7 linked regions of the Homo sapiens genome follow. The protein of the gene in region 4 purifies or fractionates together with the protein of the main gene of each other region. This does not show direct contact. Each region holds a gene or a part of one and is shown on either strand. Other genes may lie near its edges.

Region 1 (4,831 bases), on a different chromosome or scaffold from region 4:
CACCCTGAAGCAAAGATTTCTCCCCTCAGAAGTGAAAGATGAGTCACCATAAATAGGACATTTGGTTAAATGATTTTTTTTTAATGGAACATCCTATTGTCTCTGTGGCAGAGGCTATAGAAAATTTCTGTGGTATCAAATACTAAAAATATGGTAGCAACGGGAGACTTGGCTGGATTACCAGCTGTCTTTATCCTGCACAAAGAGGAGCATTCATGATTTTCTGAAAGTTATAATTAAACTGTAGTTTAACAGAAACATTCAAACTTAAGAGTGTATCTGTCTAAATCACCTCTCTCTCTTTACACAAGAAACTTAACGGTGTCCTCTGGAGAACTGGATGGAGAGGAGAAAAGAAAAATGATCTTTATCTTTTTCATTTCATATCCCTTTGGTATTTAAATTTGTTCATGAAATACACATTTACTACTTCTATAATTTAAAGCAATCTAGGCTGGGTGTGGTGGCTCATGCCTATAATCCCAGCACTTTGGGAGACCAAGGCAGGCATATCACTTGAGGTCAGGAGTTCAAGACCAGCCTGTCCAACATGGTGACACCCTGTCTCTACTAAAAATACAAAACTTAGCCAGGCATAGTGGCGCACACTTGTAATCCCAGCTACTCAGGAGGCTGAGGCAGAAGAATCGCTTGAATTCGGGAAGTGGAGGTTGCAGTGAGCCTACTCCAGCCTGGGCGACAGAGTGAGTCTATCTCAAAAAAAAAAAAAAAAAAATTAAAGCAATTTAAATTGTTGGCATCTACCAGTATGTCTTGCCATCAGTTCCCCTGTTAACCTTCCTAGAGTCTAATTTTCTCATTTCTCCAGGCCCTGGAGAGGCTATGTGATGATGCAAGCTCTAAGACACAATCTCACCTTTCACAAGTTCACAAGTTTGAAAGGAAGATCTAGATCTTGCTCCTTGGGGGATGAATGCAGGGAGAGAAAGGTCGAGATGCCAGCAGTATTGGAAAAATCAAGTATTTTTCCAGCTTCATATTGCTGTAGAGAATATACTATTCGGGCTGGGTACAGTGGCTAACACCTGTAATTCCAACACCTTGGGAAGCCAAGCCAGGGGGATTGTTTGAGTCCAGGAGTTTGAAACCAGATTGGGCAGCATGGCGAGACCCTGTCTCTATAAAAATACAAAAAATTAGCCCTGCGTGGTGGCACTGCCTATAGTCGCAGCTTTTTCGGGAGGCTGAGGTGGGAGGATCACTTGAGCCGGGGAGGTGATCACACCATTGCACTCCAGCCAGGGCAACAGAGTGAGACCCTGGCTGAAAATAAATAAACAAATACAAAATAAAAATAGAGAATATACTACTAACCTGGGGGTCGGGGGAGGCTCTGGAGGATATATGCTGGAGAGTAGATGCATGCAAAGAAATACTATTTGGTGAGGTTTCAGGTCCAAGGGCACTTTACCAAATGGTGGAAGAGACCAGTCATTTGGGTTACTGGGGGGTAAAATCCAACTGTTTAGCACTTAGAACGGTGCCCCAAAAACTCTACATTAGTCCTCCAATAAGCGCCCTGTGGTGGACTCAGAGGTAACAAAAAGGGATTGGTTCCAAATGGCCTTATGCATTGAAATAACTCCCCAAATTTGTTTTTCACAAGGAAAATGTCTATGTAATTGGTGTTAAAATGGACCTTCTCCCCAATTCAATATGAAGACAATTCATTTATTCCAGCAGCTGAGTCTGCAGCAGGAATTAGTGACTTTCAGGATTTGTTAAAGACCAGAATCTGTCCCTCAGGGGAATTTGTAGAGTTTAAGATATCTAAAAAGGAAAGCTCAGCAAGCCATCTATCTAGGTTTCTTCAGGGCAGTATAACTCAAAGTAGAGGGGCCGGGTGACCTCCTGGAGCCTGTCTCTGGTTAGCTTTTTGCTGCTAACTGGGGATAACAGCCTAATGCCTCATGACGGCTCAGCATGGCTGGGTGAGTCCAACTGAGTCAGAGAGCACCAAAAATAAGCCACAAAGCATTGAGTAGTCATATTTATGGTTTTGATTCCAAACACACTTTGTGCTTATCCCTTCCAAGTGGAGAATTTTTATGTCATTTGTGTGCGTTAAGGCCAAAGGAGAAACCTGGAGGCAAAGGAATGCTGGTTGTGGGTCAACAAATATGCCTGATGGATTTTGTATGTTTGGCTTAAAAACACTGACTTAAAGTAAAATACTGTGACTACTTCTAACCTAGAAATGAGTTCAGCCCGCCAGACAGAAACTGCCATTCGGAGGAAATAAGGCCGTGAGCACCGGTTCCCTCCACACCCCCGAGGTTCACCTGGAGGCCAGTGGGCCAAGCGAAGCCTTGGGAGCGGAGAACTCAAAGAGGGGCGGGGAGAAAAGAATAAACACACCTCGCGGGGCTAGGCTGGCGGCGGCACAGTCCTGGTTTTTTTGATGGAACTGACCAAGATGACAGCAAGCAGAGGCTCAAATGCAGGATTCAGACCCAAGACTTCTCCCCGCTCTCAGGCGGACCCCAAAGGCGGGGAGCCAAAAACCGGGAGACTGAACAAGCAGCATTCTCACGCTCCTAAACTGGCTTCTCGCTCCTCGCTCCTCATGCCCCAAAACTGATCAGGCCCCAACCCCCCTCCCCACAACTCAGTGTTCCCTCCACACGGACCGTCGAGGCTCCCCCAGATCCCACGTCTTCGTCCTTCCTGGACCCCGTGCTCCATTCCTTACAGTCACAGACAGGGATTCGTTACCTGCAGAGCAGCTCGACAACCCTGCAGGTAGTCCTCCATGATGAAGCCCAAAGTACGCCGTCGCCCCTGGTCGAGTAGAGGTGCCCCTGGTCGAGGAGAGGTTTCCCCGACGAATGCAGCCCGCCCGGGACTCAGGGACTAGAGGCCAGAGTCAGGAGGCGGGACTCGAACCCGCCACACGGCGAATCGGCCTCCGACCCCGGGAGGAACTGCGTAAGCGGGCGCTCCGGAGTCCGGCGTCGCCCCGCCCCCAGCGGCGGAGGCGGGGCTCTACGCCCAGAGGCTCCTGGGACGTCTTTCCGGCGAGGCCAAGGGGGCGTGGCGTGGGGCGACGTGGGAAACGTAGTCCCGCAACTCCGCAATGTCCCTAGCAACCGAGGGAAGGATTGTTTTCTGAGGGATCAGTCGTTCGGTAAACAAATGTGTATGTGTCACAGTAACCCATTATTGTGGCATCTGAACTTTCCCTCTCAGATCAGGCCAAGTATAACATCTTTACATATATCACACCGAGCATCTGGTGACATTTTAAATGACACTTGGCAAAACAGATCATCTTCTTTCTACAAATTCTGCCCTTTACCAAACTGACTCAGTCGCCACCAATTTTGTGGTTGTTCATGTTAGGAGAACATTAGAATAATCTTTGACCCCTCTTGTTAACACCTACAGTCTCCTGCCAACTCCTGCTGCTTCTCCCTTTGCAACTCTGTAGCCTGTTTTTTTCTACAGCCTCGGCAAATATCTTCTTCCTTTCTTGGACGGTTGTAACCTTGGCTTTTTGCTCTCTGCCACCCTAATTGTTCCAATTGCTCTTTCAGCCTTTAGAGTTGCTTGAAATTTCATCCTGTGGCGGCCCTGTACATAGAGTTTAGGGAACCCTTCAGAATGTGGAGTTAGGTTCCAACCTCCCTTAACTGCCACTTTCCAGCCGCAGAGTAGTGCAGGTACTGCAAATAAATGGACACTCATCATCAAAAATTCCCTCATTTATTTATCTATCCCTTTATTTCCTACCGTCAGCCTCACACCAGCTTTTCCTGCTTCCCCAGCTGTAAATCGAGAGGAGGTGACTGATGAGAGGCCTGCAGTGGAACCAAGATCCAGAGCACAGGCGTGTTGGATCTCCTGCCTGCTCTGCCAGTTCTTTTCTTCTTCTTCTTCTTTTTGAGACGGAGTCTTGCTCCGTCTTCAGGCTGGAGTGCAGTGGCAGGATCTTGGCTCACTGCAACCTCCACCTCCCGGGTTCAAGCGATTCTCCTGCCTCAGCCTCCCGAGTAGCTGGGACTACAGGCATGTGCCACCATGCCCTGCTAATTTTTGTATTTTTAGTAGAGATGGGGTTTCACTATGTTGGCCAGGTTGGTCTTGATCTCTTGACCTTGTGATCCGCCCGCCTTGGCTTCCCAAAGTGCTGGGATTACAGGCGTCAGCCATCGCGCCCAGAGCCTGGGGCTTCTACCACACCCTCTGCACTCTACCAGGTGCACAACCCAACCAGTTTCATTTCTAGACTTAAAAATGATACAGCAAGGACTTGGAAAGGAGCTCTCTGGAGGGCTCCAGAGGGAAAAGAGCTGGGTTTGTTTGTTTGTTTTTAACATTAATTGAGTAATACATGCAAATATCGTGCTCTTTGCTCCTGCTTCTGTGGATCCAGAGCAAAGGACTGCCATACCCAGAGAGAGAGCCCAGATCCAACAAGCTGCTTCTGTCCAGCCCTTCTCCTCCCTACTTAGCAAGGGCACTTGCTCTTCCCTATTCTCACCAGAGAGGCACAAGCGCTCCGTCCCTTCTAGAGGCAGGCAGAGGGAAGAGAAAGGGTCTGTTGTTTTTCTCTCCTGTTTCTCGCTCCCTCTCTGCTGATCACAAAGCTGCTGACCGGGTCAGAAAGTCCTGATGGAAATCCACCAGCGCTGGGCAGGCCCCTCCTCCTCCAGGGAGCTTGTCCTTGCCTAATTTTTCTTCGTCCTGATGAGAACAAAAAAGAGAGAGAGAAGAAAAGAAAAACCACAAACTTCCTTTGAAAACCAGCTTGTAGTCAGGGCCCGGAGCGCATGCCATAGACTCGGCGACTCAGGAATCCTGAAGACTC
Region 2 (4,607 bases), on a different chromosome or scaffold from region 4:
AAGAGAAAAGGGCAAGGCAGGAACTAGGAAGGGATTCAGCAAGGGCTCTATGCCTGGGAAGACAGGGCAGAGAGAGAATGAGGAGAGGAGGAGGGCTACTTCGGTCAAATCTAACCCCTGAGTGCTCAAACCAAGCCATTTTACAACTACCAAATACACTGCTGTAAAACCCTGTTTTTCTCTCCCAAGGCCATAGCTCAAGACTAGGTCAGTCTCAAAGGGGAAAGCAGGCTGGCTTCGCCTGTGCCCTCCCCATTTTGCACAAAAACGTCCAGATGAAAACCCACCTCCCTCCACCACAGCACCTCTTTGCTCTCCAGCCCAGAAAGCATTTCTAGAATACATTGTCTTTCCACAAAGGGAGTGGAAGCCCATCTTGCAGCTTCTAAAAACCTGGACTCAATTTTCTGATCTTGTGGAATAAAAACTTAGAAGCACTCAAGTCCTGTGGCTCTACTAGGATTCTGTGCCCATCAGCATTGGCCCAAACCATTTGTCCAGGTCCCCCCCCCCCGGTTTAGCCCAAGTGCCCTCTTTATTAAGGACATCCCCATATGCTTTTCTGCCCCTCTCCCACCTTCCACCAAAATGCCAAACCGTGCTCCAAAACAAAAGCCAAATTTATTCAGCAGACATTTTAATTATGAAATCCTATAAATCAGGACCACCACAATTTCAGACACTCCGTTGCGAAGTGTACATCAATAGCTACATCTGGAGGATGAACAAGCCATTGAATCTTTTAAAAATTGGTTTAGCTACCTTAAAGTTTGGGGGTGGCACCTTACAAAAGCGCCGTCAAGTTTCATACAGCCAGCGGCTTCTTCTCTGGGAGAGTCACATTTTAAAACCGGTTTCAGACACAAAAGAAGGGCTGGCACGGGAGGAGGAAATAAATTGTGAGGGTGAGGAGCCGCCGAGGCCGAGGCCCATGACTCCATGGAGGGCCAGAAGAGAGCAGAAAAACGTCCAGGGTCTCTCATGCATTCCTATAGACACCAGAAAGGGTGGAATAAGAAAGCTCAGCTGGGAGGACAAGAAAGAGACTCAAGAGATCGTTTATGACTGTTTCTGAGAAAGCTCCTGGCATGGCCATGAGTGGCCTTCCGGGAGTCCTGTAAAAAGGAAAGCACAGAAAACAGGAAAGAACTCTCCCTACACGTCCCTCTCTGCCTGTTTGTGTCCTCGGGAGACTCCAAGCGGTGGTAAAGCACCAACAGGGCTCTTCTTGGAGCAAGAGAAAGAAAAGACTCCGGGGTGAGTAAGCTCTCCCAGGAACCCCACAGCAAACCGTGACCTTGAACACAGATGGCAAGGTCAAGTCATTTACAAGTCCACATTCAAATCCAAATCTCCCACCTGCAAAATTCTTCACCTCTCTCCAGTCCCTTAATTGGAGTTCACATCTCCCACCTTCACCAGCCACCGAATCGGTGGGAAAAAGGGGCAATGCCAAGCCACCCACCACCAAACTTTTACATTCTTCTCCCCTCTGGAATTTCTTTGCACAGCAATTGTAGCACCACTTACTAAGCTCCTCCACCAGAAAATAAGAAAATGTATGCGTGTCGTTAGTTTTCAAGTATTGTTATAAAGCCATCGCGATTCCTACCCCTGAGCCCTCCTTAAACAATCCAAGCTCACGACGCCCCCAAGGGCTAAGTGAGGTACAAGTCGATGCAAGTAGCTGCCATAGTTCTCCCAGTTTATCCCAGGTCCTTGGGCTTGGATGGCCCGGGAAATTCTCATGCCCCACGGAAGCACCCTGGCGCATACATTTCTCCACGCTTAAGTTTTCTCCGACGGCCTCGCCGCGGCTGGTAACTTCTCTGGTTGAGATCTCTCCCCACGCGCCTCCCCGCAGCCAAAGTGGTCGCTCCCAGGCTGGCGACGTCGGCTTCAGCTCAGAGTTAGTAGGAACTGGACGCTGTTGGGTCTACGCAGCGGCCTCCACTTCCTCCTCCAGGAGGCCTGCGTCAGAGCAAGGAGCCTGAGGGCTGCAGGGCAATGCGGTCAGGTCCGCTGCGGCCTCCCCCGGGCCCAGGGGCGCTTGCGGGGCCCGTGGCTGCAACCGCGGCGACGGCTCGTTGGAGTCTCCGCACGGCTTCCTTGATGAGGTTTCCCGAGAGCACGAGCTGCTGGAGGAGCCGATGCGGGTCGTCGTCGCCGGCGCGTGCCCCGGCTTGGGTCCATCGGCGCTGCTGCAAGCGGCGGGAGGTGACCGCGTCCCTGAGCCATCCTCGCCGGCACGGCCCCGGCAGCGCGCTGGGGCCTGCGGCGACCTCCGCCACGCAGTAGGGCGCAGCGCGTCCGCGCACGCGGCCGCGGTCCCCTAGGGCGCAGCGCAGGGCCCCAGAGGGCGCCGGGCCCACCGTCTCAGCCGAAGCGGGCGGCAGCAGCAGCGGCACCGCCGGGGGCCGGGCCTTGTCCGCCGGCACCGCCGCAGCCAGGGGCCCCGGGGCCCGCAGCGGCACCCCCGGGGGCGCGCACGGCGAGGCCGGGCTGTCCTGCGCCGCGTCCAGCTGCAGCGTCTCGCCGATCTGGGCCACCAGCCGGTCCACCTCGCCCGAGCTGCCCAGCGTCACCGACTGCTGCAGCAGGAGGAAGCTGTCGTCCTCCTCTTCCTCCCCCTCCGCCTCCTCGCCGGCTTCCTCTTCCTCCTCCCTCCGGCACGGCATGGCCCCCCGTCCTGGCACCCGGAGCTGTGCGGGCTTCGCTGGGGGCTTGGTTGCCCGCGGGCGCGGAGCTGCGGGCGAAGCCGGAGCAGGGGCGGACGCGGAAGCCGGAGCCCGCCAGGCACTCGAGCCACGCGCCTGCAGCCGCTGGAGCCGGAATCCTGCCGGCTCGGGTTGATTTGTAAACAATGGGTGACGTCGCGCCGGGCCCTACCACCGCACCGGGGCGGGGGTGACGCGCGAGCAGGCACGGGGGCAAAGGGCGGCGCGGGCGGTGACCGAAGCCGTCCCGCGCCTGTGTTCGTTGTCCCTCCAGGAGGGGGTCCGGGGCGTGGGGACTGATTTCCGACCTCCCGGGCCCAACGAGCCGTGCTGAAACGTGGCGCCTCGGAGGAGGCTGAGGTTGGTTTCTCCCACGCACGGACACACCCACACCCACTCCGGGCCCGCCTCCTGGGCCGCGGCCTCCCTCCCCACGTGTCGGCCGCGCCTAAGCCCGCCCGACTCCCGCCCCGCGCACCCGCAGTTCCCGGCCCTGGTCGTGGGGGAGGGGCGGGCCGCCGCGGGTCCGGCTTCGACGAGGCGGGGCGGGGAAAGGCGGAGGGAATTGGGAGTGAAGAGGCGGCACGTTACTTATTTACTTATTTATTATTTAGAAAAGGTCTCTGTCGCCCAGGCTGAAGTATAGTGGCGCGAACACGGCTGACTGCAGCCTCGAACTCTGGCTTAAGTAATCATCCCACTTTAAGCCTCCGGAGCAGCTGGGACCACAGGCGCGGCCACCACGCCTGGCTAATTAAAAAAATTTTTTTTGTAGAGACGGTGGTGGGGGGGGGGGGTCTCACTATATTGCCCAGGCTGGTCTCGAACTCTTGGGCTCAAGGAGTCCTCGCTCCTCGGCCTCCGAAAGTGTTGGGGTTACTGGCGTCAGCCGCCGCGCCCGGCCTAAGAGGGGACGCTTTGAAGCAGAGCAGAATCGCTCTGAGGTGAGGTCCCAGAGGCTTTCCCTCCCGCAGTCTTCAAGCCCCCGGACATATCATGAGAATAGGACTCACCGCCGCTCGGCTAAAGAAGGGTCTTTTTTTTTTTTTAAGGTTCAAATAGAAATATAGGGGATTGGCCAGGAGCGGTGGGTGGCTCATGCCTGTGATCCCAACACTTTGGGAGGCCGAGGCGGGCGGATCACCTGAGGTCAGGAGTTCCAGACCAGTCTGGCCAACATGGTGAAACCCCATCTCTGCTAAAAATACAAAAATTAGCCGGGCGTGGTGGCGGGCGCCTGTAATCCCAGCTACTCGGGAGACTGAGGCAGGAGAATGGTTTGAACCCTGGAGGCGGAGGTTGCAGTGAGCCGAGATCACGCCACTGCACTCCAGCCTGGGCAACAAAGCGAGACTCCGTCTCAAAAAAAAAAAGAAAAATATAAGGGATGGAAAAAATCTCTCATGGTTCACATTTAAATTTTTTTCCTTTTTAGCCTTTGTTCTATGAAAGTGTAGTATACAAACACATGCATACAGTGTTACACACTTTTCCACTTTGCCTTACATCATAAACGTTTTTCGTGTTATTGCATGCACTTTGAAAACATTTTAATGATTACATAAGTTTCCATCAAGTGCCTATGTTTTTAACATTTGCCTAATTTCACCATCGTTAAGTGTGTAACTAACATTTTTGTGCGCGACACTTTAAGATATTGATGATTCTTTCCTTAGGGCATATTCCCAGGAGTGGAATTTTAAGTCACAGTAGTTGGGTATTTTAAGGTTTACTGATAAATGTTCAGGAAGTGTCTTTCCAAGAGTTAGGTAAATGTACTCTACCATCATTAATGCTTGAGCATACATCATTACACCTTCACTAGTATTTGAGTATTATTGAATTTTTTTTTTTTTGCGGATTATATAGGGAAATTTTCTCCCTTCAGTT
Region 3 (4,056 bases), on a different chromosome or scaffold from region 4:
AGGGCGAGGCAGGCAGATCACTTGAGCTCAGAAGTTTGAGACCAGCCTGGGCAACAGGGAAAAACCCTGTCTCTACAAAAAAAAAAAAAAAATACAAAAATTAGCTGGGTGTAGTAGTGCATGCCTATAGTCCCAGCTACTCAGGAGGCTGAGGTGGGAGGATGGCTTGAGCGTGGGAGGCGGAGGCTGCACTGAGCTGAGATTGTTAACACTGCCGAGACAGACCTTGTATCAAAAAAGAAAAAAAAAAAAGAAAAAGAAAAATTTTGATCCCACTTCCCAAAAACATATCAGCTTATTCTAAGTAGCTGCCTTATTATCATTCTCTAAGACAAAGGTAATCAACCTATGCAAAATCTGCTACTATGCAAATTATCTGCTAACTATACTTTCATGGAGATTCCACAATGGGAGAAATATGGAGGTTGGGTCAGGTGCTACCTCAAGTTACAAGAAAGACACAAAAATTCGGTAACAGCCGTTGTCTCTGGGGTTTGAAGTGGAGATAATTTTTCTTTGTACAATATAGTATACAACAAGACCCTACATTATTCCCCTTCCCCCAAAATACATTCCCATTGGTCCTCTCTGGACAGGTCTCTTACTTCTCCTTCCCTCCCCTCAATCTCTTTTGTTCATTGGCAATAACCAGCCTCAGGGCCTTTGCACTTCCTACTCCTCATATCTACATGACTCCATCCTCCATTTCTCTTGGTCTCTCTCAAACATACCTTACACATGAGACCCTCCCTGACCACTCTATATAAAATAACCTCACCCCCACCCTGAGACGTTCTTTCCTCCATACTACTCATTCTACTTTACTTTTTTCTCAATAATATTACCACACTCTGACATACTACATATTTACTCGCTTATTATTTGTCTCTCACAACTAGAATGTAAGCTCTTTGAGAACAAACAGTAGGTCTATTTTGTTTATTGTTGTACTTCAGTGTATGGCATAAACAGACTCTCAAATTTCTTTTGAATGGAGATGTTTTACTTCCTTCTTCAATGAATACAAAAAGTTAAATTTTAGAAAAAAAAAACAACTTTCTTTTCTTTTTCTATACTTTTTTTTTTCCAACTGTGATCTTAGTTAGGCCTATGAAGAGGCCTAGGTAGTCTTACCTGCCTATTTGGCTGACCTTCAGCACGGTAGACATCCAAGAGGCCAACTGTGCCCCAGTTAACAAAGTAGTCAATAGAGAGCAGAACAGCAATGAGGTTACAGAACTTCCCCCATTCCAACAAAGCAGGAAATAAATCAGATTGGCACCAATTTCTCTTTTAAAATAGGCTATTTTAAAAGTGTACTGAATATACACCAGCTACTTTATTTCAATGAGATTTACTTCACTTGCAATGAAATGGGAACTGCAGGTGCTTTGATAAAGGTATTGAGAAGTTGACCTAGTTTCTATAACAATGTCTTATGTCCTCAACCATGAGAATATATTTTAGTTTCTTAAAATATGAGCTTCCTAAAACAAAAATCTTTTCTTTTCTTTTTTTTTATTTTTTTATTTTTTTTGAGATGGAGTCTCACTCTCTCGCCAGGCTAGAGTGCAGTGGCGCGATTTCGGCTCATTGCAACCTCTGCCTCCTGGGTTCAAGGGATTCTTCTGCCTCAGCCTCCTGAGGAGCTGGGACTACAGGCATGTGCCACCACGCCCAGCTAATTTTTGAAATTTTAGTAGACACAGGGTTTCACCACGTTGGCCAGGATGGTCTCAATCTCTTGACCTCGTGATCCGCCTGCCTCGGCCTCCCAAAGTGCTAGGATTACAGGTGTGAGCCACCGAGCCCAACCGTGTAACAAAAATCTTTCTTTTTTTTTTTTATTTTTTATTTTTGAGACGGAGTCTCACTCTGTTGCCCAGGCTGGAGTGCAGTGGTGCGATCTCCACTCGCCGCAACCTCCACCTCACAGATTCAAGCAATTCTCCTGCCTCAGCTTCCCGAGTAGCTGGGATTACAGGCGCCCGCCACCACGCCCGGCTAATTTTTGTATTTTTAGTAGAGACAGGGTTTCACCATTTTGGCCAGGCTGGTCTCAAACTCCTGACCTCAGGTGAACCACCTGCCTTCGGCCTCCCAAAGTGCTGGGATTACAGGCATGAACCACCACCGCGCCCAGCCACAAAAATCTTTTCACTCCACAAAGATACCTCCTAATGTGCTACTGCACTACAACATAGAACAACATAGAAAGCATAAATAAAACAGATGATTTACTCCGGAGAAAGTAATTTTTTTTTTGCTCAACTGTCAACTAAACCAAAATGAGTAATTAATCAAGAAATGCAGATGAAATCTAAAAATCAAAGATAAAACCAATCTGAATCACTAGAAGAGATCAGTCTTCTTGGATTACAATTGTATGCCTAAACTAGATCTAACTGAAATGAAGTGGTATCCTAACAGTTGTACCTTTAGCACATGGGTACAAGAAACAGAAATACGTCTTTATGTTAACTGTTAGTGAGGCAAAGCAACGCCCATGAAGACCTAAGGGAAAACCTAAAGGGAAAAAAAGGAAACCCAACCTAAAAGAAAAAAAAGATAGGGGAGGCAAGAGGAGGCAAAGAGAGACAAAGGAAGACACCACAGAGAACAGGAAAGCAAAAGAAAAGGAGAAAATACAGGAGAATTGGTAGAAGAAATTATAGGTAAAATAAATGTGAGGAACTGAATGTGGGAGGCTACAGAGTGCCAAAAGAAATTAGCTTAAATAGCCAGGCAAGGTGGTGTGTGCCTGTAGTCCCAGCTACTCCAGGGGCTGAAGTAGGAGAATCACTTGAGCCCAGGAGTTGGAGACAGGGCAACATACCAAGACTCTGTCTCTCTGTTTTTTTTTTTTTGAGACGGAGTCTCGCCCTGTCGCCCAGGCTGGGGTGCAATGACATGATATCGGCTCACTGCAACCTCCACCTCCCGGGTCCCGGGTTCAAGCGATTCTCCTGCCTCAGCCTCCCGAGTAGCTCAGATTACAGGCATGCACCACCATGCCCAGCTAATTTTTTTTTTTTTGTATCTTTAGTAGAGACAGGTTTTCACCATGTTGGCCAGGCTGGTCTCAAACTCCTGACCTCAAGTGATGCGCCTGCCTCAGCCTCCCAAAGTGCTGGGATTACAGGTGTGAGCCACCGCGCCCAGCCTCTGTCTCATTTTTAAAATAAAAATGTAAAAAAAAAAAATTATTCAAAGAAATTGGCTTAAGTACTATTTAGAACACTAGTTTCATGGGTTCTTAAGTATGAAGAAAAGGGAGGAAAAGAGAAGGAAAATTCCTAGGCTGGAATAAACCCGCAAGTTTCTAGGCAAGGTTGTATCTAACACATATGTATTTCCCACAGACCACAGCTTGGCTTTTCCACATATAAAAGCTGACTCCTTTCTTAGAAGCACACTTCTCACAGGAAGCATTCATGAACTCATGTCAGTTTTATAAATGTCCACAAATAAGGGTTGCAAATACAGAATGATGTCTGGCTGGGCTTGGTGGCTCACGCCTGTAATCCCAGCACTTTGGGAGGTCGAGGTGGGCGGATCACGAGGTCAGGAGATCAAGATCATCCTGGCTAACACAGTGAAACCCCGTCTCTACTAAAAATACAAAAAATTAGCCAGGCGTGGTGGCGGGCGCCTGTAGTCCCAGCTACTCGGGAGGCTGAGGCAGGAGAATGGCGTGAACCCGGGAGGCAGAGCTTGCAGTGAGCCGAGATCGCGCCACTGCACTCCAGCCTGGGCGACAGAGCAAGACTCTGTCTAAAAAAAAAAAAAAAAAAAAAAAAAAGGATGATGTCCACAAATCATACAAATCATTCTGTTTATCTTCCTCCCACTGACACTTCACTTTACTAAAGTTATCCATTCTCATACTACCGTTGTTTTGAACCTCACCCACACAACTCTCCAATATTACCTATTACTAATTTTTTCCCATTAAAAAAATTTAAAAGTTAGCTTTACCCACTCAGGAAGCCCATATATTCTGTAATGCAAGCACCTACATCTACCACAGATTCTCAGGTTTTAAGAGACCTTCGG
Region 4 (4,056 bases):
CACGTTTATAAGTGGTTAAGCCAAATAATGACAGGTTCTGACTAGAATAGTAGTGAAGAGAAAGAAAAAGAAGAGACACAGCCACAAGGCAGTATGAGGAAAAAAGAAAATCAAGTTAAACAATGACTGGATATTAGGGATGAGCAAATGGAACAGTCTGAATAACAGTGAATTATAAAACCATTAAAAAGAAAAGGCAAATCCAAAGTTCTGGGAACTAGCAGGAGAGATTTCCATTGAGTCTTAAAAGTTAAGTCATAGTTAGATAAGATGGCTTGACAATTTGAGATAACAGTACAATATTCAGATATCAAGATCCAGTGGGCATTTGACAACATGAGACTAGTACTTGGGGGAGAGGTGAGAACTGAAAACAAAAACAACTGAATTTTTAAAAATTCTTTAGAATGTTCCAGATATTTACAGCAGATGGACACTAGAATGTGGTATAACTAGTGTTATACCAGAACAGTGATCACTTCTTCTTGTTATATCCCTTCATGTTTACCATAGATCTTGGTACATTGGAGGCTCCCACTAAAATGTTGCAGAGGTTGGAAGAGTAGTAAAGGGAGCAACGCTGCATAGTGACAGAGGCTTAATTACACCCGGTGTCTTCTGACTCTCTCTGCTATACCACAACATAGAGATGACATCTGAGCTTCCATGCATAGGCTCCCCTAATGAGGTACAGAAAATGAAAATACATGACGAGAACTGAATTTTGGGATTGCTAGTGTCTAAAGGCAGAAGGACAAGAAAAAAAAGGGAAGATAGCAAAAAAAAAAAAAAAAAGTTACGAGAAAAATGGATAGTGTTGTAATATGGTTTGGATGTTTATCCCTTTCCAAACCTCATGTTGAAATGTAATCTCCTTTTTTTTTTTTTTTTTTTTTTTTGAGACAGAGTCTCACTCTGTCCCCCAAGCTGGAGTGCAGTGGCGCGATCTCGGCTCACTACAAGCTCTGCCTCCCGGGTTCACGCCATTCTCCTACTTCAGCCTCCCAAGTAGCTGGGACTACAAGCGCCCGCCACCATACCCGGCTAATTTTTTGTATTTTTAGTAGAGACGGGGTAGAGCCTGGTGGGAGGTATTGGATCAAGGGGGTCAACCACTCATGAATGGGGTTAGCACCATCCCCTTGTTGATGAGTGAGTTCCCACTCAGTTAGTTCACAGGAGATCTGGTTATTTAAGAGAGTCTGGGGACGGGCATGGTGGCTCACGCCTGTAATCCCAGCACTTTGGGAGGCTGAGACAGGCGACTTGCCTGAGCTCAGGAGATTGAGACTAGCTTGGACAACATGGCAAAACCCCGTTTCTACAAAATAGTAATAACAATAATAATAATAATAAAGTCTGGATCTCCCCCTTCATGCTCTCGCTCAGCTCTTGCCATGTGATGCACCTACTCGCCCTTCACCTTCTGCCCATGATTAGAAGTTTCCTGAGACAATTACTAGAAGCAGATGTCTGCACCACACTTCCTGTACAGTTTGCAGAATTGTGAGCCAATTAAACCTCTTTTCTTTATAAATTACTCAATATCAGGTATTCCTTTATAGAGATGCAAAAACAGACTAACACAAGTTGCAACATGGATTAAAAAAATTTTTTGAAAAAAGGAAGCATAGTCAAATACATAAAATGCTTATATGCTACAGGCAGTGTTCCTCTGGTCTACATCAACACAGTACAACGGTGAGGACAGGTCACTTTTTATAGTATAAATTAAGAAATTTTAACTTACCTTTCACAGGATTAAAAAATACATATATTACATATGTCATTTGTAATGACTACAAAAGTAATACTGCAATCTTCAGTGAATGTTATCTCTACAAAATACATGACTAGAAATAAAATCACTACAATGGTTGAGCTGAACAAAAATGCGCACAATAGAAGAAATTTGAAGCAAAAAGAAGCAACTAAAAAAATAATCATTTATGGTATATGTATTACGACAGCAACAAAATATATGAAATACTGGACATTTTACCTTAAATCTCTTGTCCTGCAATACTTTCTTGATGGCGACCAGTTCTCCTGAATCACAAAGTTTGGCTTGATATACCACACCAAATGATCCATTTCCAATCACTTTAGTGTCTGTATAGCTGACTTCTTGTGGCCTGTCTGGACCCTGCCCAGGAGTTGCCACCACTGTTGTCACCTTGCTGCCGTCCTTGTCTCCTAAAGGAAGAAAGGAAATTTTTTTTTCACGAGAACTGTAAGGAATTAAATAGAGAAAACTGCCAAAATATACAAGGTAAACTATATTCTTTATTTTTTATTTTATTTTTTTTTTTGAGATGGAGTCTCACTCTTGTCACCCAGGCTGTTGTGCAGTCACACAATCTCGGCTCACTGCAACCTCCGTCTGCCGGGTTCAATCAATTCTCCTGCCTCAGCCTCCCGAGTAGCTAGGATTACAGGCACCTGCCACCACGTCTGGCTAATTTTTGTATTTCTAGCAGAGACGCGGTTTCACCATGTTGGCCAGGCTGGTCTTGAACTCCTGACCTCAGGTGATCCGCCCTCCTTGGCCTCCAAAGTGCTGGGATTACAGGCATCAGCCACCACGCCTGGTCAAAGTAAACTATATTCTTTACTACAAATTATTTTTAGTTTATTACATGTAATTACTTCAATTACTTGTTTCAATTATAAGTCATTTTTTAAACTCCCATGTATTCAGTCATTCTATAGACCAGACACAATGCTTAGTTTCAACCCCATGAGGTAGACAGTACTGTTCCCATATTATAGGTAATAGGAAGAATGTTAAATTTGCCCATGGTCAAATAGCAAAAGGTGAACCCATAAGAGTCTGACCTTATCCATCCAATTCTAAAAGGCCTTAGGGCTTTCTTCAAGACCTTATTTTACTTGAAAATAAAATATGTGCAAATAAAAATGTTTAAAACTTCTCTCTTCAGATCCTTCTGCATTTAGGAAAGTAAGGCTTTGAGTGTTTGCTTCCCTGAATCTTCTTTTTAGCAAAGTAGAAGACCTCTCAGAGAAAGCTCAGGTGGAGAAAAGAATGTTAATTTGGGGTTAACAGATATAAAAATTTAAATAATCCAACCCATTCTGAACTGAGGCCCAATTATATAAGCATATCACTGGCTCCAGGGTCTCTATTCACTCACAGACCTCTTCTTTCCTTTTTTGCCTTCTCTCACCCCAGTAGCAATCCAACGGCTCTCTTCAATTCAGGCACAAGAGCCACCTCCTACTTCACTAGGGATAGTCCACAGTCACCATCTTGTTTTCTGAATTCTTAATCGATTCTGTGTATTATGCTACCTAGTATCTGATCTAAAAGAGCTTTACATTGTTCTTTTAGTGACTTCAACGTACACAAAAATGTCTACTGTTTCTTCTCTCTTCCCTGACAAATCTAAAACCAATTCTCAGTACAATATAAGTCCTTAGGCTCACTTATTGGACTTTTATTTTTTCCTGTTATTCTTCCATTACAATTTCCTTTCTAAAATACTAACTGAATTCCAATTAACCTAATAAAAGAAAAGTAATATAATATTTATGAGTATTTTTCTCTGTGAAATATAAATTGCTAGATAAATGAATATCCAAATGCACTAGTGGAATATTATAACCAATATTTATATCCATTTAAATTCACAGAAGTATTAATATACACAAAAGCCAGTGAATGTCTGTGACCAATTAACACTTTCATTTGTAAGATGGCATTCATGGTCGCTTCCAAGATGGCTGAATAGGAACAGTTCTGGTCTACAACTCCCAGGAAGATCTTTGCAGAACACAGGTGATTTCTGCATTTCCAACTTAGGTACCTGGTTCATCTCACTGGGACTGGTTGGACAGCAGGTGCAGCCCATGGAGGGCGAGCCGAAGCAGGGTGGGGCATTGCCTCACCTGGGAAGTGCAAAGGGTTGGGGGATTTCCCTTTCCTACCCAAGGGAAGGCATGAGTGGCTGTACCTGGAGGAGCGATACACTCCTGCCCAAATACTGCACTTTCCCAATGCTCTTCGCAACAGGCAGACCAGAAGATCCCCTCCCA
Region 5 (4,056 bases), on a different chromosome or scaffold from region 4:
GCAACATGGATCAATATGAAAAACACACATCCCTTACCCAACAATTTTACTTCCAGGAACTTACTTGACCACCAACCTCACTGTTAACAAACAAGTCTGCCCTCAAGACACATAATATTTGCAGAATTCTGTGGACAGAGGATTTAGTACACACTGCTTTCATCCTGTGATTGCCCTAAGTACTTTCAGAAATGTAAACAGTCCTGACACATGTGGTCTTTGAATATGGTCAAACACCTCATTCTTCAGCTTTGGTATCTCATAACAAATTGTTGCATAAAGTATGAAAAATACATATTGGTGATACTATTTATTTATTTAGTCTCTTCTTGCAAAGAGAAGAAATAAACAAAAGGAGAAAGGCTCATGTCTGGAATCCCAGCAATTTAGGAGGCTGAGGAGGGAGGACTGCTAGAGCCCAGGAGTTTGAGACCAGCCTGGGCAATGTGACAAGACTCTGTCTCTATAAAAAAGGAGAAAGTGAATAGTGTCTTGTCTCAAAAAAAAAAAAAAAAAAAAAAAAAAGAAGAAAGTGAGTAGAAAGAGAGCTTTTTGGATATCTAAATAAAAGCTGACAGGGCCAGGCACAGTGGCTCACGCCTGTAATCCCAGCACTTTGGGAGGCCAAGGCGGGGGGATCACTTGAGGTCAGGAGTTCGAGACCAGCCTGGCCAATATGGCAAAACCCCATCTCTACTAAAAATACAAAAATTAGCCGGGCGTGGTGCCTGCAATGCCAGCTACTCGGGAGGCTGAGGTAGGAGAACTGCTTGAACCTGGGAGGCGGAGGCTGCAGTGAGCCGAGTTTGTGCCGCTGCACTCCAGCCTGGGCAACAAGAGTGAAACTCTGTCTCAAAGAAAAAAAAAAAAAATTAGCCAGGTGTGGTGGTGCATGCCTGTAATCCCAGCTACTCAGGAGGCTGAGGCAGGAGAATCGCTTGAACATGGGAGGCGGAGGTTGCAGTGAGCCAAGATTGCGCCACTACACTCAGCCTGGACAACAGAGCCAGACTCCATCTGAAAAAAAAAAACAAAACACCAAAAATTAGCCGAGTGTGGTGGAGCATGCTTGTAGTCACAGCTACTCGGGATGCTGAAGTAGGAGGATGGCTTGAGCCCCTGGGAGGCAGAGGTTGCATTGAGCCAAGATTGCACCACTGTACTCCAGCCTGGGCAACAGAGCCAGACCTTGTCTCATAAAATTAACTAATTCATTAATTAAAACTGCTCAAACCTTGGGTGAGGTGTGGCTTCTTACAAGACCAAAAGCGTCAAAAAAAAAATAGTACAATGTTGGGGCCAGGTGGTTCACACCTGTAATCCCAGTACTCTGGGAAGCTGAAGCAGGACTGCTTGAGGCTAAAGGTTCAAGGTCAGCCTGGGTAACATAGTAAGACCCCAACTCTACAAAAAATACCAAAAAAATTAGCTGGGTGTGGTGGTACAACTTGCAGTTGTACCTACTGGGGATGTTGAGGCAAAAAGATCACTTGAGACCAGGAGTTTAAGGCTACAGTGAGCTACAATCACACCACTGCACTCCAGGTTGGGCAACAAAGCAAGAACCCTGCTTCACTGATAAGAATAAGAAGGCGGAGAAGAAGAAGAAATTGGACTACATCAACATGAAAAGCTTTTGTACTGAAAATGATACCACCAATAAAATTAAAAGCCATAGAAATTAGAAAAAATATTTGCAAATCATATATTTAATAAGGGACTTATATGCAGTATATATAAAGAACACAACTTGGCTGGATGCAGTGGCTCACGCCTGTAATCCTAGCACTTTGGGAGGCTGAGGTGGGCGTATCACAAGGTCAGGAGTTTGAGACCAGCCTGGCCAGCATAGTGAAACCCCGTCTCTACTAAATATACCAAAAAAAAAAAAAAAAAAAAATTAGCTAGGCGTGGCGGTGTGCGCCTGTAGTCCCAGCTACTCGGGAGGCTGAGGCAGGAGAATCGCTTGAACCTGGGAGGCGGAGGTTACAGTGAGCCGAGATGGCATCACTGCACTCCAGCCTGGGTGACAGAGTGAGACTCCGTCTGAAAAAAAAAAACAAAACAAAAACAAGACCAAAAAAAGATCACAACTCAATAACAAAAGGCAACTCAATTTAAAAGCACGCAAAGGATTTAAACAGACATTTCTCAAAAAAGATATATGAATGGCCAATAAGTACACAAAAAGATGTTTAACGTGATTAGTCATCAATGAAACACAAATCAAAACATAAGACACCACTTCGCACCCACTAGGATGGCTAAAAGAAAAAAGGCAGTAACAAGTATAGGGACATAGAGCAATTGGAATCCTCATATACTGCTTGTGAATATGTAAAATAGCGCAGCCACTCTGGAAAGTAACCTGACAATTCCTCAAAATATTAAACACAGACATGGTGGTTCGTGCCTACAGTCCCAGCTACCAGGGAAGCTGGGGCAGGAGTATTGATTGAGCCCAGGAGTTCAAGGACAGCCTACACAACATAGCAAGACCCTCATCTTAAAAAAAAAAAAAAAAAAAAAGCCAAAAAAAGGCCATGAACAGTTTCATTCATGCAATCCAAGCATTTCAGGGGGCCAAGGCAGGAGGATCACTTGAAGCAAGGAGTTCAAGACCAGCTTGGGCACCAAAGTGGGACTCCATTTCCACAAATTTTTTTTTTTTTTTGGAGACGGAGTCTCGTTCTGTCACCCAGGCTGGAGTGCAGTGGCGTATCTCAGCTCACTGCAAGCTCTGCCTCCCGGGTTCGTGCCATTCTCCTGCCTTTGCCTCCCGGGTTTATGCCATTCTCCTGCCCCAGCCTCCCGAGTAGCTGGGACTACAGGCATCCGCCACCATGCCCGGCTAATTTTTTGTATTTTTAGTAGAGACGGAGTTTCACCACGTTAGCCAGGATGGTCTCGATCTCCTGACCTCGTGATCCGCCAGCCTTGGCCTCCCACAGTGCTGAGGTTACAGGCGTGAGCCACCACGCCCAGCAAAAAAATTTTGTTTAATTAGCCTCGTGTTGTGGCATGTGCCTGTAGTGGCAGGAGGCTGAGGCGGGAGGATTGCTTGAGCCCAGGAGTTCAAGGCTGCAGTGAGCCATGATTGCACTGCAATACAGTCTGTGTTACAGAGTGAGACCTCATTAAAAATAAATAAATAAATAAAAGTTAAAAGAGCTGGGTGCGGTGGCTCAAGCCTGTAATCCCAGCACTTTGGGAGGCCGAGGTAGGTGGATCACCTGAGGTCAGGAGTTCAAGACCAGCCTGGCCAACTTGGCGAAACCCAGTCTCTACTAAAAAATACAAAAAATTAGCCGGGTGTGGTGGTGGGCGTCTGTAATCCCAGTGACTCAGAGGCTGAGGCACAAGAATCGCTTGAACCTAGGAGGCAGAGGTTGCAGTGAGCCGAGATGGCGCCACTGCACTCCAGCCTGGGCAACACAGAGAGACTCCGTCTCAAAAAAAAAATAATAATAATAATAAAAAGTTAAAAGTTACCACACAACCCAACAATCCCACTTCTTGCTCTATAACCAAGAGAAATAAAAATAAATGCCCACACAAAAACTACTACACTAATGTTCATAGCAACATTATAATAGCCAAAAAGTAGAAATGACCCAAATGTCTATCAGCAGATGAATGCAAATTAAAAATGTGGTAGATACAGAGATATGATGGCATATTATTGATCAATAAAAGGAAAAGAGGCAACGAGCACATGAAAAGACGCTGAACTCATTAGTCACTAGGAAAATGCAAATCAAAACTACAAAGATGCATCACTTCACACCCAAGTAGGAGGGCCTAACCAGAAAAACAGAAAATAGTACCTGTTTATGAGGATGATGAAGCATTTGAACCCTCATACATCACTGGTGGGAATGTAAATCGGTACAACCACTGTGGAAGTTTCGCGGTTCGGTTAAGTTAAACACAGAATTGACTGTGTATGACCCAGTAATTCCACTCCCAGGTAAAGAACTGAAATCAGATGTTCAGACCAAAACTTGTATGCAAATGTTCAGAGAAGTACTACTCAAAATAAGCAAAAGGTGGAAA
Region 6 (4,056 bases), on a different chromosome or scaffold from region 4:
ACAGCAAAATCACTCAGGAGCTCTGAAAAAAATAACTCGTCTTCCAGAGATTTTGATTTTGTTTTTCTGCAGTGAGGAAAATGTATCTGTAATTTTATAAGCTCTTACAGGTAATTCTAATGACTAGCTTAAAGGATTTTGAATGTCACTATCTTGAAGGATTTTGAATATTACACAAATAGGGCATAACTTGGAAATAGCAATGGACTGTGCAGTGTACCAGATCGGTGTCCATATTGTCAGAAAAAAATTGAGACTCCTTCTAAAAATGCATTTAAGAGCCAGGTGTGGTGGCTTGAGCCTGTAGTCTCAACTACTCAGGCGGCTGAGGTAGTAGGATGGCTTGAGCTCAGGAGTTCTAGGCTATAGTGCACAGTGATCACACCTGTGAATAACCACTGCACGCCAGCCTGGGCAACATGGTGAGACCTTGTCTCTTAAAATACAATGAGTTTCTTACCAGTCTAATCTAACTCCAGTGTGGTGAGGGGGTGGGACTAGACCTTGACCACAGTGCCCAAGTAGATAGGAAATGAATGTTGATTGAATATGTGAGTGAGTGAAGAGTTATGCTTCATTCACGACAGCAGATGCTTAATCCATATCAGAGAAGTGAAACTTTACTTTTAAAACCTGCCAAGCAAAAAGAAAGCACAATAGCTCACCATAACTTGTTCTGTAAAGCCTTTTGTACATTCCAAAGCACTTTCACATTAACTTTTCTCATTCATACATTTCAAATTTTAACAATACATATAGCCAGGAAGATCTTTTTTAACCCCAGTTACAGAAGAAAAGCTAAAACCACATAGCAGCCTGGCAGTAATATTTGATCAAGTTAGCGTGAGAAATTAGAAATAATATTTTTCAAAATATAACATTTGGGTCAGTTCAAATTAATGGTGAAAAGATGAGTTATTCAGTAAATGGTATTGGTACAGTTGGCTATCCATTTGGAAAATAAAGTTATGCAAAATAAATTCCAGATGGATGAGTTAAATTCAGATACAACGAGAATTTAGGGGATTTTTAAAATGTAATCATGGTATGGGGAAGGCCTAGAGCAGAACCCCAATCCAGAAGTCATAAAAGGAGCTACTGAGACTTACCTACTGTGGTAGGTAAAGACTTGCACTCTGATTTCATGCAATTTAGATTTATTTCCATTTCTGCTTATTGCAACTGTATGATCTTAGAACTAAAACTATCCTTTAAACATCCAAACAGATGTTTACTCAAGGAAATACATATTACAACAATGAGCTATCATTCTTTGCCTCTTAAATTGGCAAAAATTTAAAAGAATTGGAAAGAGGTGAAAAAGAGTACAGTCCCTCATATTCTATTGGTAAAGTATAAGTCATACTCTCTTTTTTTGTTTTTTTGAAGGGTAAATTGACAGTATCTATTAAAAGTTAAAATAAGTATGTCCTTTGACTCAGCAATTTCAGTCCTAAATATCTGTCCTAGAGAAATAATTATACATTTAAAAATATGTACTAGGATTGTTACTGAGGCATTATTCAAAATAGCTAAAAAACACAATATTCTAAATGCTTATCAATATGGAAATTGACCTGTTGGGGGTAAGTGGAGAAGGGAGATTCTTTTTTTTGAAGATCTATGGGTGTCGGTGATTTTGCTGTGAAAAACCACTAGAAATGTTTTTAGATAGTATTTTTCCTAACAATTGTTAGCTAGTGTTTTGTACTAAGGAGCAATTGTAAGGCATAGCTAATTTTAATCAAATGTAGTAGTTTGAATGTCTTTCTATAAACAAATTTTATAACTGCTTTTTTTTTTTTTTACAGAATGGAAACAGACTGTAATCCCATGGAGCTAAGCAGTATGTCAGGATTTGAAGAAGGTTCAGAGCTGAACGGTTTTGAAGGAACTGACATGAAAGACATGAGGCTCGAAGCTGAAGCAGTTGTAAATGATGTTCTCTTTGCTGTTAACAACATGTTTGTCTCGAAAAGCCTGCGGTGTGCGGATGATGTGGCCTATATCAATGTGGAAACAAAGGAAAGAAACAGATATTGCCTAGAACTCACTGAAGCAGGGCTCAAGGTAACTCACTTTTCCTTTTAGAAAAAAAAATTATTTATGTCTTTACCACTTTATCAAAAAGAGGGGTAGTGGGGAGGGGAAGAGTGTTAAAAGAGAACTGGATATTCAGTAGCTTCCAAATTTTTTTAAGAAAAACTTTTAACCTAGAAATTTTTATTAATTTTAAAGGCTTTTGATCGATATGGGGAAACAGAATTTTTTTGAAAAACATTTGATTTGCAGGGCGTGACTTTGTTTTAATCATGACCCCCAAAACTAATTTATTTCTCATCTATAGCTAAATGTGTTCACCAGAATTATACATACATTCTTTGCATTGAATGGGTTTTGCAGTCACTGTGTTGAAAAGATTTTCAACACCTCTTGAAAATGTCGCTTCTGTTAAAATAACATACTTGACAACACTGTTTTCCAACTCTGAGATCAGAAATAAATCAGAGCAGAACATTCCACCCCCAGATTTCCAAGAGTGTCCCATTAACCCTTTATTATGAGTATCTCTTTATTATGAGAGCTTTTCTAGGCGGATTAACCTTTCCATTCTTTAAACCAAAATCATGAGTTTAGAATAGTAGAAAACATCACCTGAGAGCAACTTTTAATTAAAAAAGAAAAAACTATAGGCCAGACCTGCGGGCTCTTACCTGTAATCCCAGCACTTAGGGAGGCCAAGCTGGTAGGATCATTTTAGAGCAGAAGTTCAAGACCAGCCTGGGCAGCATAGCAAGACCGTGTTTCTACAATATATTTTTTGTTAATTAACCCAACATGGCAGCACTTGCCTGTAATCCAGCTACCTGGGAGGCTTAGGAGGGGGCCTATGAGTTCGAGGTTGCAGTGAGCTAGGATTGGGCCACTATACTCCAGCCTGGGTACACAGACCCTGTTTAAAAAAAAAAAAAAACTATTATAAAATCTTTGACCTACTGAACAAAGGGATAGACATTAGAAAATCTAAAATCTAGTTTTAACCTTACTAATCAGTGAATCTTCAGTCTTAGAAAATGTCATACATTTCTGTGTTTCTATATTTATTCAAAGTAATTGTACATTATCATAAGGTGGTGAGCAAGGCCTGCCTAAGCAAGTAAGAATGTCACATGATATCAAGTACATAAACATCTCTTTAATTCGCTGGATTCACTTTGCTGAAGATGAGTCGTGTATACTGTATATTCCTTGATGGAGCAAATTGCAAGGCCAGCATCTGTACTACCCTCAGTTCCCTCACAGCTGCTGCAAAGATAGCTGCTTAGCTTTAAGCATAGTACCTGAATTAACTAATTTTTGTGCACTTCTTTTCACATCCTTAAATTTGTACTAAAAGCTCAGAGTATTTAGAGGTGAATCTTAAATCAGAAGTAGAGATAAATGACAGAATTAGTAAGATAATTCTGTCTTGTGTTGGTTAATTCTAAGTTGACTGTGGAGAGGTAGAAGGAGTTCTGATCAGAGAGTCAGCAGTCTTAAATGTGAATTTAAGTGATCTTGAGTGAGTCCGTCTACCCCTGAGAGAGTTTCTGCTTCTTAATCTATAACTTGGAGATTTAAAAAAAACTTAAAACGATTTGGGGAATGATTATATGACTGTATGATACAGAAAGATCTGAACCATATGTAAAACCTGACATGTAGTAGGTGCTCAAATATTTGTTTGTTTTTCAGTCTGATTCAGTTAACATTTATTGAGCAACTATCCTGTGTCAGCAATTGAAAATCAAACCATGCATAAGACATGATCCCTGTCCACCAGGAAGATCACAGTCTAGCAGAGATAAGAGGAAGAAGGCAAACTGAACTGTACTCCACTGTAGAGAGTGCAGTAATAGAGCATGGATCTGAAGAGGTGTGATTCATTTTCCTTAGGTGTCTGCCTCTGCTTTTCATTTAAAAAAAAAAAAACTCAGCTTCTATTTCTAACACAAACTTTCACCTCCTATGGCTTAAATAGATGTCATAAAAATTTAGGATTTATATAGGGAATGT
Region 7 (4,056 bases), on a different chromosome or scaffold from region 4:
TTTTTTTTTGTTATGGTAGAAATAAATGCCCACCCGAGTTTTCATCACTCACTATTATTCTATCTTTGGTGTGCCTGTACCATGTTCCCTTAACAATCCTCAATTATGAAACATTTAGGCAGTTTATAAACAATACTGCAATGAACAACCTAGTGCATACTTTTTTTGTGTGTTCTTCTTTTATTATTTCCTAGAAGTGAGCCCTAGAAATGGAGTTCCTGAGTCAAAATGACACATTTTATAGCTTTTTCTTGTTAAAAAAAAAATTCAGTGACACTTGTGAAAACACGGTAAGGAAGTCTTTATTCAGGAACATTGCCTTGGGCATAGGGACCACTGCAACAGGGTCCTACAGTGAGGGAGAGAGTTTGGGCTCAACTCCTAATACAGCATGGGCGAGTGGGAATTGATAGCTGCAGAGCAGGGTAGGGGTCAGCGGATGGAAAATTACTAAGAGGAAGCTCAGGAATAAGGGATATTCTTGCTAAACCGACCTAACAAAATTATTGATGAAGACAAACCAGGGTGATTCAAACATCAGTGGGGGCATGGTGGAGGATGAGGAGCCTGATCAGATATCAAGGATGAGGGGTTCTGGCTAAACAGACTTAGCAGGATTCTTTTGCTAAAACTGGATTTTACAAGGAAGTGCACAGGTAGGCCTAGGAGAAGGTTCAGAAGCCTGGCTAAAGTTTGGCCAAGCAAATAATCTGTGTCATGCTAAATTTTGCCAAATTTCTGCTCATAAAGGTTACAGTAGTCCTTATTCCTACCAGCCATCCGTGAGAATGGCAGCATTCTTCAGGAGCATCTGAAGCTGGTTATAAAAAGCTCAGCTGTCCTTTTATAGAATAGAGTACAGCGACCATTTTCCTGAAACGTTACATTTCATTCATTCATTTGGCAAATACACTTGCACAATTCAGCAGCAATAAAGCATAACAAGTTAAGATCCCAGGCCGAAGAAGTGGAGAGAACTTGGTTCTCCTTCTGGTTTATGTTTTGCACTTGCCCTAAGACCTTGAGGACATCACCTCACTGAGTTTCATTTTTCTCAGCTATACAGTTAGGGCTTCAATACCCACTTCACAGAATTCTACAAAGTACCTAACACAATGCTTGGCCAGTGCAATCATGTGGATGCTGGGAATTTGTATTATCTCATCTGACTCCAAAGAGCCCTGGAAAGGAAGCAGGTAGGGACAGATCCTTCCCATTTCATGGACTCAGAGAAGAAACGGCCATGTTTCTTGGTGTCCTGAGCTTCACTTCAGGAACTGGTAGTCCAAAGGAACTGTATCGTTCAGAACGGAGGTAAAACAGGCTTTTGTGGGCTAGCCTGTATCCATCCCCCTCCCACCTCCCCTCCCACCACAGTACCTGTTTCTCTTGGAAGGCAAGTTCCCAGTTCCAGTGGCAGCCAGAATTCTTTCTATGCTCTTTTAGAAGGTGGGAGATGCCTGCCTAGACTGTTCAGTGGTCTTAAAAAAGAGACCATAAAATTCATGGTTGCATAAAATATAGTTTTCATAGATTTAAATTGCATTTTAAATGCACTAAGGCTTCATCTTTGAGCTTTTCAGAAATGTGGGATTTCAGACTCCATCTTTAGGGTTGCCTTATTTAGCAAATAAAAAACAGTGTGCCAGTTAAGCATGAGTATGGCCCTTGGAATGTTTGGGGCATAATTATACCAAGACATCTTATTGTCTTTCTGACATTTAGATTTAACTGGGCATCTCATGTTTTATCTGGCAACCCTACCCACCTTGGGTCTACTGAATCCAAATCTGGATTTTCACAAGATCCCCATGGAATTCGTGTGCGAATTCAAGTGTGAGAAGCATTGCATTGGGAGCCTTGCCATCAAAGCCCTGAATGAATCCTTTTTGTAACAAATCTGTTGGTAAAATATAATGCACTATTTATAAAGAGCCTGATTATTCCCAAATCAACCATTTGCACACATCTGTGTGTTCATGTGTTAGGTTTTCTTAATACAGGCTACCCTTGCACTGTTGTCAGTTGAAGGGAAGAATTCCTTGCTTTGGTAAGAAGCCCTAGCCCCTCTCAAGGACCTATTTTCCTCATCTGTAAAATGGGCTACATCCTTAGCATCCGTGCCAGCCTGTGGTGACCAGCTGAGGTGGCCCCAAGGGGATGCATGGCTAGAGCCCACGCCAGGTCCCTCCTCAGCCTCCTCACAAAGGACCGAATGACTTGGCTCTGTGATCCCATCCCCCAGAGACTTTGGTGTGACTGTGGTGACCCTTGGCATAGCGCACCCCCCCGACTGCCTCCTCATCTCAAAACTTTCCAAACCATGACTTTTATAGCAGGGCTTTAGGAATCGCCTGGCTCTACCCTCTCACTTCATGGCTACAGATACTTGTGCCCTGAGAGAGCAAGTGAATTTCCCAAAGCCAACAGCAAGCCCTCTGATTGCTGCTCTACCAAACCAAAATGATTTCAGTTCTCATGAAACCTAAGGCCTGACTAAGGAAGATTAAGAAACCTGGTGGTGGTCGGGTCCTGTAGTGGGGTGGGAGGAGGGGGGAGGGATAGTATTAGGAGATATACCTAATGTAAATGACGAGTTAATGAGTGCAGCACACCAACATGGCACATGTATACATATGTAACAAACCTGCAGGTTGTGCACATGTACCCTAGAACTTAAAGTATAATAAAAAAAAAAGAAAGAAAGAAACCTGGTGGTGGTCATACGCCTAGTTTGTCTTGGTTGTGTGGTCTTGGGTAAGTCATTTCTCTCTCTAACCTATTCCCTGCCCCCACCCCTCCATAATATGGGGAATACACATTTTCCTGTTCCCCTAGGTCTCCTTTCTACCTGGTTAAGGTTTTATTTTAAGATCCAGTGGTAGATCTTGGTCTGTCAATTGGTCCTAGAGTGGAATGCTTTATGAAATCACTGGTACATGTGTTAGGTCAGAGACTTAATACCATGACATCATGAAAGATGTCTTTAGACCCTTTCTCTCCTCATTGCTAACAAAGATTTTATGAACTGTGTTTCAGCTGGACAAAAAAGATGTTCTAGAGCATTCTAAGATCGCCTGGGGCTTTTGTTAAAATGCAGATTCTGGTTCCACAAGTCTGGGGTGGGGCCTGAGGCTCTGCATTTCTAGTGATGCTGATGTAGCTGGTCCAGGGATCACACTTTCAGTTGCAAGATTTGAAAACAATCTGTTATTAGTGTAGAATCAATACTTATGAGATAAGGGACTTAAGAGGCAAGTCCCTTGTTCAGGGCTAAAGACCCAGTGACAGTAATAGGGTCTAGCCTGGAGCCCAGATCTTTTAATGTCTTGTCTTTGACATCTGACTTATCTGTCTATTTTATCTGCAGCTATGAGTTTCTAGAATCTGAACAGCCCTTAAAATACTTTGCTGCTTAATTATGTAGCAAAGTAGGTTCTTCTTTAGGAAAGAGAGTGACTCAGTAGAAAGCCATTGGAAGGGGGAGAAATACAGCTAGCATTTGATCAACCCTTTCACCAGAAGTTTTTATACTTGAGATTATAAACATTCTTTCTGTATTTATGGATGCAAACTACAGTCCTGGGGAGGCCCCAGTCTGTTTTTGTATGCCTCTGAGCTAAGAATGGTTTTATAGTTTTAAAGTGTTGTTAAAAAACAACAATAACAAACAAACAAGGAAGAATATGCAACAGAGAGGGTGTGTAGCCTATGGAGCCTAAAATATTTACGGTCTGGCCCTTTTACAGAAAAAGTTTGCTGACCCATGATCTAGAGTACCCAAAGATTTGCATGTTCTTTTTTTTTTTTTTCTAGTCAGCAAGAGGCCCAGCCTTATAGCTTTGAAATATAGTGAGGTCAAGACGTAGGGGAGGCAGCCTGCGTTGGTGGGAACTGCCCAGACATCTTAGCTGTGTGACCCTGAGCACATTACTTCACCTCTCTGAGCTTGTGTCCTAGCTTCACAAAATGAGGACAAAGATTGCTGCCTGGTAGAGTTATTGCAATGATGAGACATGCCTGTAGAGTTTAACGCTTGGAAGGTGCACAGAAAAT

Evidence for each region.
Region 1: the proteins of GSK3B (region 4) and PRUNE1 purify together in Homo sapiens (affinity purification with mass spectrometry; 5 studies listed by BioGRID and IntAct, with this or other methods). This does not show direct contact.
Region 2: the proteins of GSK3B (region 4) and FRAT2 purify together in Homo sapiens (affinity purification with mass spectrometry; 2 studies listed by BioGRID and IntAct, with this or other methods). This does not show direct contact.
Region 3: the proteins of GSK3B (region 4) and CTNND1 purify together in Homo sapiens (affinity purification with western blotting; 2 studies listed by BioGRID, with this or other methods). This does not show direct contact.
Region 5: the proteins of GSK3B (region 4) and USP48 purify together in Homo sapiens (affinity purification with western blotting; 2 studies listed by BioGRID, with this or other methods). This does not show direct contact.
Region 6: the proteins of GSK3B (region 4) and GSKIP purify together in Homo sapiens (affinity purification with mass spectrometry; 10 studies listed by BioGRID and IntAct, with this or other methods). This does not show direct contact.
Region 7: the proteins of GSK3B (region 4) and GSN purify together in Homo sapiens (affinity purification with mass spectrometry; 2 studies listed by BioGRID and IntAct, with this or other methods). This does not show direct contact.

The regions. Positions count from the first base shown.
Region 1 is NC_000001.11:151,006,577-151,011,407, reverse strand, and holds the start of PRUNE1 (exopolyphosphatase PRUNE1), read right to left. Parts: upstream 2,960-4,831; 5' UTR 2,776-2,959; coding exon 2,737-2,775; intron 1-2,736. UniProt on the Homo sapiens protein: Phosphodiesterase (PDE) that has higher activity toward cAMP than cGMP, as substrate. Plays a role in cell proliferation, migration and differentiation, and acts as a negative regulator of NME1. Plays a role in the regulation of neurogenesis.
Region 2 is NC_000010.11:97,331,895-97,336,501, forward strand, and holds FRAT2 (GSK-3-binding protein FRAT2), read right to left. Parts: upstream 2,836-4,607; 5' UTR 2,679-2,835; coding exon 1,977-2,678; 3' UTR 603-1,976; downstream 1-602. UniProt on the Homo sapiens protein: Positively regulates the Wnt signaling pathway by stabilizing beta-catenin through the association with GSK-3.
Region 3 is NC_000011.10:57,768,133-57,772,188, reverse strand, and holds part of CTNND1 (catenin delta-1), read right to left. Parts: intron 1-4,056. UniProt on the Homo sapiens protein: Key regulator of cell-cell adhesion that associates with and regulates the cell adhesion properties of both C-, E- and N-cadherins, being critical for their surface stability.
Region 4 is NC_000003.12:120,000,044-120,004,099, forward strand, and holds part of GSK3B (glycogen synthase kinase-3 beta), read right to left. Parts: intron 2,197-4,056; coding exon 2,003-2,196; intron 1-2,002. UniProt on the Homo sapiens protein: Constitutively active protein kinase that acts as a negative regulator in the hormonal control of glucose homeostasis, Wnt signaling and regulation of transcription factors and microtubules, by phosphorylating and inactivating glycogen synthase (GYS1 or GYS2), EIF2B, CTNNB1/beta-catenin, APC, AXIN1, DPYSL2/CRMP2, JUN, NFATC1/NFATC, MAPT/TAU and MACF1.
Region 5 is NC_000001.11:21,776,094-21,780,149, forward strand, and holds part of USP48 (ubiquitin carboxyl-terminal hydrolase 48), read right to left. Parts: intron 1-4,056.
Region 6 is NC_000014.9:96,380,436-96,384,491, forward strand, and holds part of GSKIP (GSK3B-interacting protein), read left to right. Parts: intron 1-1,811; 5' UTR 1,812-1,812; coding exon 1,813-2,070; intron 2,071-4,056. UniProt on the Homo sapiens protein: A-kinase anchoring protein for GSK3B and PKA that regulates or facilitates their kinase activity towards their targets.
Region 7 is NC_000009.12:121,274,254-121,278,309, forward strand, and holds part of GSN (gelsolin), read left to right. Parts: intron 1-4,056. UniProt on the Homo sapiens protein: Calcium-regulated, actin-modulating protein that binds to the plus (or barbed) ends of actin monomers or filaments, preventing monomer exchange (end-blocking or capping).